Homo sapiens: one gene and its partner. Changing the gene in region 1 together with any one later gene gives a genetic interaction. Each region holds a gene or a part of one and is shown on either strand. Other genes may lie near its edges.

Region 1 (2,766 bases):
TGATCTCTGTGTCCCACGCATTCTATGCAACAGGATCAGAGTATGAAAGAAACGGAATGCAAAATGGTTTTAAAGTCTCTGACTTAAACTCACTATTTTCATAAGAACCAAAGATAGGTTTAGAAGGGAAAGGACTCACTCAGAATCTCGCCAAGGCTGTAAGAGCTGGTATTAGAACCCGCATGAGTGCTTCAGCATTTTTCACACCAAGTGATGGGTGTTACAAACGTGTTATGTATTGATTAAAAGCAGACCTTTACAAAAGCATCTGAAAATTGTGAGCTACTGGTTTAAGGATTTATACTCAAAACTTTTAATTCAACATAGCTTTGACTCAGTTTGTTTCCCTATCTGACAGTCTATCAGTCGGGTGCTGGGGCCTGAACTACGTTTCAAATAACCTTTATATAAGAAGTCTGTTACTAAAGACGCAGTATTGTTACCTCTCTGTTATTAAAAATATAATGCTGGGTCGGGCACGGTGGCTCTCGCCTGTAATCCCGGCAATTTCAATGGTCGAGGCAGGTGGATCACCTGAGGTCAGGAGTTTGGGAACAACCTGTGCAACATAACGAAACCCTGTCTCTACTAAAAATACAACAATTAGCTGGGCGCGGCGGAGCCCGCCTGTAAGCCCGGCTCCGCCAGAGGCTCAGGCAGGAGAATCACTTGAACCCTGGAGACAGAATTTCCTGTGAGCCGAGATGGCACCACTGCACTCCAGCCTGGTCTTCAGAGCGAGACTCCGTCTCAAAAACATAGTAAGACTTACAATATGATACTGTGGAAACAGACACCCTACAATGTGCATGCCTAATGGATTGCCTACCTTCTTCAGGCGTTTTCACCTCCTCTGGATTTGGCGGGTCCATCTCCTGCCCATCAGGACCATCTTCACACTCACACCCAGTCTGTGGGTGACCCTGTTCCTGGCTATCAGCTTCAGGCTTCGGCCCTTAAAAATAAAAAATACGTATCAATTTAAGCAGTAAAACATAACGCATGAATAAGAAAATAATATTCACGCTCTCGGTATTATTATATAAAAGCTTTAGCTAACATAATAATAAATGTGTTGATAAGAATCCCAGGAACATTATTTCAGGAGTCCGTTAGCAGAAAACAGGAAAACAAGGTGTTCCAAATATTACCCTCTTCCTTTCCGAAGACTGCCCTCAGACAACTTTGCTGCCTCCTTTGCACTTCTCTCTTATTCTACTTCTGATTGTCCTTCTCGTATTAAATGACTCAAGGCTCAAATCCCGTCTCTCACAGCACTTACACTCCTAGCGCTTAGACTCTTACATGGCATGAGTAGCCACCAATAAACGCTGAGTGAGAAAACTCTTTTAAAAATACATGAAAAAGCCCAAACTGCAGAATATTCTGCAAACCAACTGGTCTATCCTCTCCAAAAATGTCCGTATCGTGAATGACAAGAAAAATTAAGGAAACATTACAGGTTAAAGGAAACTAAAAACACCTGAAAAGCACATGCAAGGTGTGATTCTGAACTGGACTCTGGATCAGAAAAAGAAATCCTATCAATAAAATTATCTGGGCCGGGCGTGGGGTCTCACGCCTGCAATCCAAACATTTTGGGATGCCAAGGTGGGCAGAGCAGGTGAGGCCAGAAGTTCAAGCCCGCAGTGGCCGGCGCCTGTAGTCCCAGCTACACGGGAGGCTGAGGCATGAGAATCCCTAGAACCTGGGAGGTGTGGGTTGCAGTGAGCCGAGATCGCACTACTGCACTCCAACCTGGCCCACAGAGAGAGACTCCGTCTCAACAAAGAAAAAAAAAAGGAAAAAAGAAATTTTCTGGGGAACTGGCAAAATTTGAGTATGCACTCTGTATTAAATGACTCCATTTTCTCATTGTTAAATTTCCTGATTTTCATCTTTGTGCAGTGATGATCCAAGAAATGACTTTCTCTTTGTTCTGACGATATACACACCCTCAAGTACATAGGGTAAAGGACCATAATACCTGAAACTTTATCGAGACAATTCAGCATTAATAACAGTAAACATATATCCGTATGTATGTGTGTGTGTGTGTGTGTGAGTGTGTGGGCAGCACGGTAAGAGACGGAGGGAAGAGATGTGAAACTGATGAAGCGAAAGCTATTAACAATTGGTGAATCCAGATGAACAGTATATGAGTTCATTGTACTATTCTTGCAAATTTTCTATGAATGCTATGTCTTGAAGATACATACAGTAAAAATTTAAAAGAATACATGATAACTGCACTGAACTTTAGGAAGAAAGGAATTTCCAATTGTGGTAAAAAATACAGATATCCTAAAATTTACCATCTTAACTATTTTTAAGTGGTACAGTTCACTAAGGAGTTACGTTTGCAACATTACCAGCCACTAGGCACAAAAACTTTGCATCTGTGTTTTCCTATACCATGAAAACTTTACTTATTTAATGAATTTATTTATGTATTTATTTATTTATTCATTTATGTATTTATTAGCGATGAGGTCTCACTGTGTTTCCCAGGCTGGGCTTGAACTCCAGGACTCAAGCAATCCTCTCACCTCGGCCTCCCAAGTAGCTGGGACTATGAGTGCATGGCATTCAGCCCAGCTTTAGACCTTTCTCCTAAATGACAATCTAAGGATAAACCACAGGACATGTATAATGCTTATATTCAGCCCTAGAGTACCAACAGCAGTGTGCGTCAGCTGAGAAATCTGAAGTCTACCACGTGGGTAGGATTTCAGTTACAATTACAATGTCAGTTTCTGAAGGATT
Region 2 (3,832 bases), on another chromosome or scaffold:
CCTGCCCCCTTTCTAGTCCCTCACCGCCTCTGTGGGACAGTAAATACGTGCCCCAGGTTGGATGAAGCTAGGACGTTTCTTGTTCTCTACTTCTCTTCCTCTTTCTCCTTTTTTCTCTCCTTTTAAAATTTTCTTGCCAAGTATAAACAGTTGTATAAGGTAAGTGGGCATCTGCTGTGTCTCTGTTATACTTAGGGTATATTCCTTTCACTTAAGATTTACAATGTAAAAATGTAACAACAGTTATTCAGGTAAATTATAACTTATTTTTAGCATTCTGCAAGGTGGTGGGATCCAAAAAATAGGTGGGAGAGATGTGGCAACAGTCAGTGTGAAAAAGAGGAAAGGGTTTAGTCAACCACAAGCTCAGTATTAACCACCAGCGTGGCATGGTTGCCAAAAAAGTAAATTTGAACCTTGGCAGTGTTCATGAAAATATAACGTCTAAATTAAGGAAATTAATAGAAGCTTATTCATTTCAGTTCTACTTTTTTAAAGATGAATACTGACAAAATGAGCAACCAGGATAGTGGAAAACTTGGAATTCTTTAAATTAGGAGCAGTTGAAGGAATTGGGAATGTGTAGTATATAGAAGGAAATGTTTTGAGGAGACGATAAGATTGATTGCAGTGTAATGCAGAGGAAATTCTTTTGGGATTTGAGTCAGGAAACCTGAGCTAACTAGTTAAAGTACCTTGTATGGTAATTATCTCCCTTGATCTCGGTTTCTGATTTTAAATATTTGAAAGATTTTCATATGGAATCAAAGCTAGACTTTAAAAAAGTTGCTCTAGAGGATATGATAAGAACCAATTGTTAGAAATTACAGGGAGAAAAAGTAAAAATCACCTCAAGATGGGAAAAAATACTTGCAGTTCACAATCAACAAAGGATTAATAGTCATAATATGTAAAGTCAATAAGATAAACAATCTATATAAGTCAATAAGTCAATAAGAAAAACGAACAAAATGAAAACCTAGTAGAGCAATGAACAAAGGACATGAGTAGGCATTTCATTTTTGGAACATGAAACCTAAATGGTCAAGAAACATGTTAAAAGATAAACTTAGGCACTTTAAAGTTGTAAAGAGTATATTTGAGCAGAAAGCAATTCATGAATCAGGCAGTACCAGATGGCAAGCAGGTGGGCTCCAGTGAGGAGATTCAAGGGTAAGACTTCTTTCTATAATGTGTTCCCGGAAGCAAGACAAAGAAAAAATTTGATTGTTTAAAGAAGGACAGTCCCTGGATTGGTCAGTTTGCAGTTCCTCATTGATTAAGCTAAGTTGCATTTTGCTGCTCATATTGAATTGGGTTTGTTTTTTGCTTTTTGTTGTTGTTGTTTTTGTAGAGACGGGGTTTTGGCATGTTACCTAGGCTGGTCTCGAACTCCTGGGCTCAAGCGATCCTCCCGCCTCACCCTCCCTAAGTGCTGGGATTACAGGCGTGAGCCACCTTGCCCGGCCTTTATTCTTTTCCTTTTTTTTTTTTTGAGTTGTGTTGTGATTTGTTTACCTAGGAACTCAAGCTGTTAGAGTTGTCTCAGCCTAATGGACTCCCAATTAATTATTTTAACACATGTTAAATTAATAATGGAGAAATTAAATTAAGACCACAATGAAATACCATTTTATACTTGCTGGATTGCTGAAAATTAAGAAGTCTTGGTAAGTCTATAAAGCAATAGGTGCTCTCATATCCTGCTGTGTAACATAAATTAGTATAACCACTTTGGAAAACAAATGATCATTATGTGTAAGGCTGAATGTGCTCATACCATGTAGACCAGCAGTTCCACTCTTAAGAATGTTATTAAGGAAACTGTTATACACATGCCTCAGTACAAATGTGTAGAATGTTCAGAGCACATGGTTGATCATACAAAAAACTGTGGCCGGGTGTGGTGGCTCATACCTGTAATCCAAGCACTTTGGGAGGCCAAGGCAGGAAGATCACTTGAGCCTGGGAGGTTGAGGCTGTAGTGAGCTGAGATTGCACCACTGCACTCCAGCCTGGGTGACAGAGACCCTGTCTCACACACACACACGGAAGGAAACAACCCAAATGTCTACTGCAAGAAAATGAAAAAATAATGATATATTTACCAATAGAATATTATGTAGCAGTAAAAAAAAAAATGAATAAAGTATAGCTACATGTAAAACCATGGATGAATTTTAAAAACATAAGGTTGGATGAAAAAATGAAGTTGTAGAAGTTACATATTGATTGATAACACTATTTTGAAGCTCAAGAATGAAAAAATCAATATATTGTTTAGTGCCACATATTTATTTGGTATAACTACTTTGAAGAGTCCTCGAATAATCAACAAAATTCAGGATAAAGGATACGTGCAGTTGAGAGGTGGGGAGAAGCATAAAAGTAGATCAAAAGGTATTTATTAATATTCTAGTTATTAGGTGGATAGTGGCTCCGTGGGTATTTGTTGTTGTTATGCTTTGAAATTTACACTCCATATATTCTTTCATATATATATATATATATCAAACAGTACATAGTATTTTCAAACAAAATTTATTGTAAGGAGAGAGGCTGGAATTCAGTATAGGGAAACTTTCTTTAAAAAAAAAAAAGTTTGTCAGAAATTAGAATGACCTGCCCTGGGAGGTCATGAACTCCAGTCTCTAGAAGAGTCAAAGTAGAAGTAGAAAGTTTATGTTAGAAATAGCTGGGAGTGAAGGATGGTGTGTGTGTGTGTGTGTGTGTGATCCAGGGTGAGTGGGAGGCTCAACTAAACCTCTTAAGTTCTGTTGCAATTCCAACTCCACCCTACCATGTTTCTTCTGTCTTTCTAAATCTTAGTATATTTCTGCCTAGTTGCAGATCAAATTATAGGAAGAAAGTTGAGGTCTAAACTATGTGTTAAACAAGGGTTTAAGCCATATGTTATTGCTAATTTCCTTTTTCCTGTGCCTATCAATATTTGTATTTTCACATGGCTTCACTCGACTACTTTAGTTAGCTGTGGATTTGTGAAATACCCAAAGAAATTGGCCAAGAGGAGAAATGTTCAAGTTGACACTGCAGCCACAGCTAAATTTAATATAATGGTTGGTTTGCTTTTGATGCCTTTATTATGAAAAAAGAAAAAAATATGTATACGTAATGGTTGAGAACTTTTCATAATGACATAGAATCCTTTTCTGAGGGGCTGCTAAGAGAATTATTTTTAAAATAGTAAAATGTTAATAACTTATGATGCTTTAGATACCCTGCTTTACACATTAAGAAGACCTTACTTTAGAAAAATGGAAAACCAGGACGCCCTGGTCTGCATATCTGAGAGCGTTCCAGAGCCGATCGTGGAATGGGTGCTTTGCGATTCACAGGGGGAAAGGTATGACACATCCATGGTAGCTGCTATTCTCATAATTTCCTTTTGGCCTTTTTCTAATGTAGTTGACATCAAGCTGTATGTAAAATTTAATTTATGCTCATTTAAACAGGAAACTTTGGCTTCTTAAAGTTAAAAAATGGCCAGTATAGGGCCGGGTGAAGTGGCTCACGCCTGTAATCCCAGCATTTCGGGAGGCCAAGGTGGACAGATCACTTGAGGTCAGGAGTTTGAGACCAGCCTGGCCAACATGGTGAAACCCCATCTCTACTAAAAATACAAAAAATTAACTGGGTGTGGTGGCAGGCACCTAAAATACCAGCTACTCTGGAGGCTGAGGCAGGAGAATCTCTTGAACCTGGGAGGCAAAGGTTGTGGTGAGCCAAGATCACGCCATTGCACTCCAGCCTGGGCAACAAGAGCGAAACTCCGTCTCAAAAAATAAATAAATAAAATTAAAAAAATAAAATA

The links.
Region 2: changes in GAGE13 (region 1) and FLT3 together harm fitness less than expected from each alone (positive genetic interaction), as found in Homo sapiens cells (one study listed by BioGRID).

The regions. Positions count from the first base shown.
Region 1 is NC_000023.11:49,334,436-49,337,201, reverse strand, and holds part of GAGE13 (G antigen 13), read right to left. Parts: intron 956-2,766; coding exon 830-955; intron 1-829.
Region 2 is NC_000013.11:28,052,077-28,055,908, reverse strand, and holds part of FLT3 (receptor-type tyrosine-protein kinase FLT3 precursor), read left to right. Parts: intron 1-2,985; exon of another isoform or gene 2,986-3,077; intron 3,078-3,234; coding exon 3,235-3,364; intron 3,365-3,832. UniProt on the Homo sapiens protein: Tyrosine-protein kinase that acts as a cell-surface receptor for the cytokine FLT3LG and regulates differentiation, proliferation and survival of hematopoietic progenitor cells and of dendritic cells.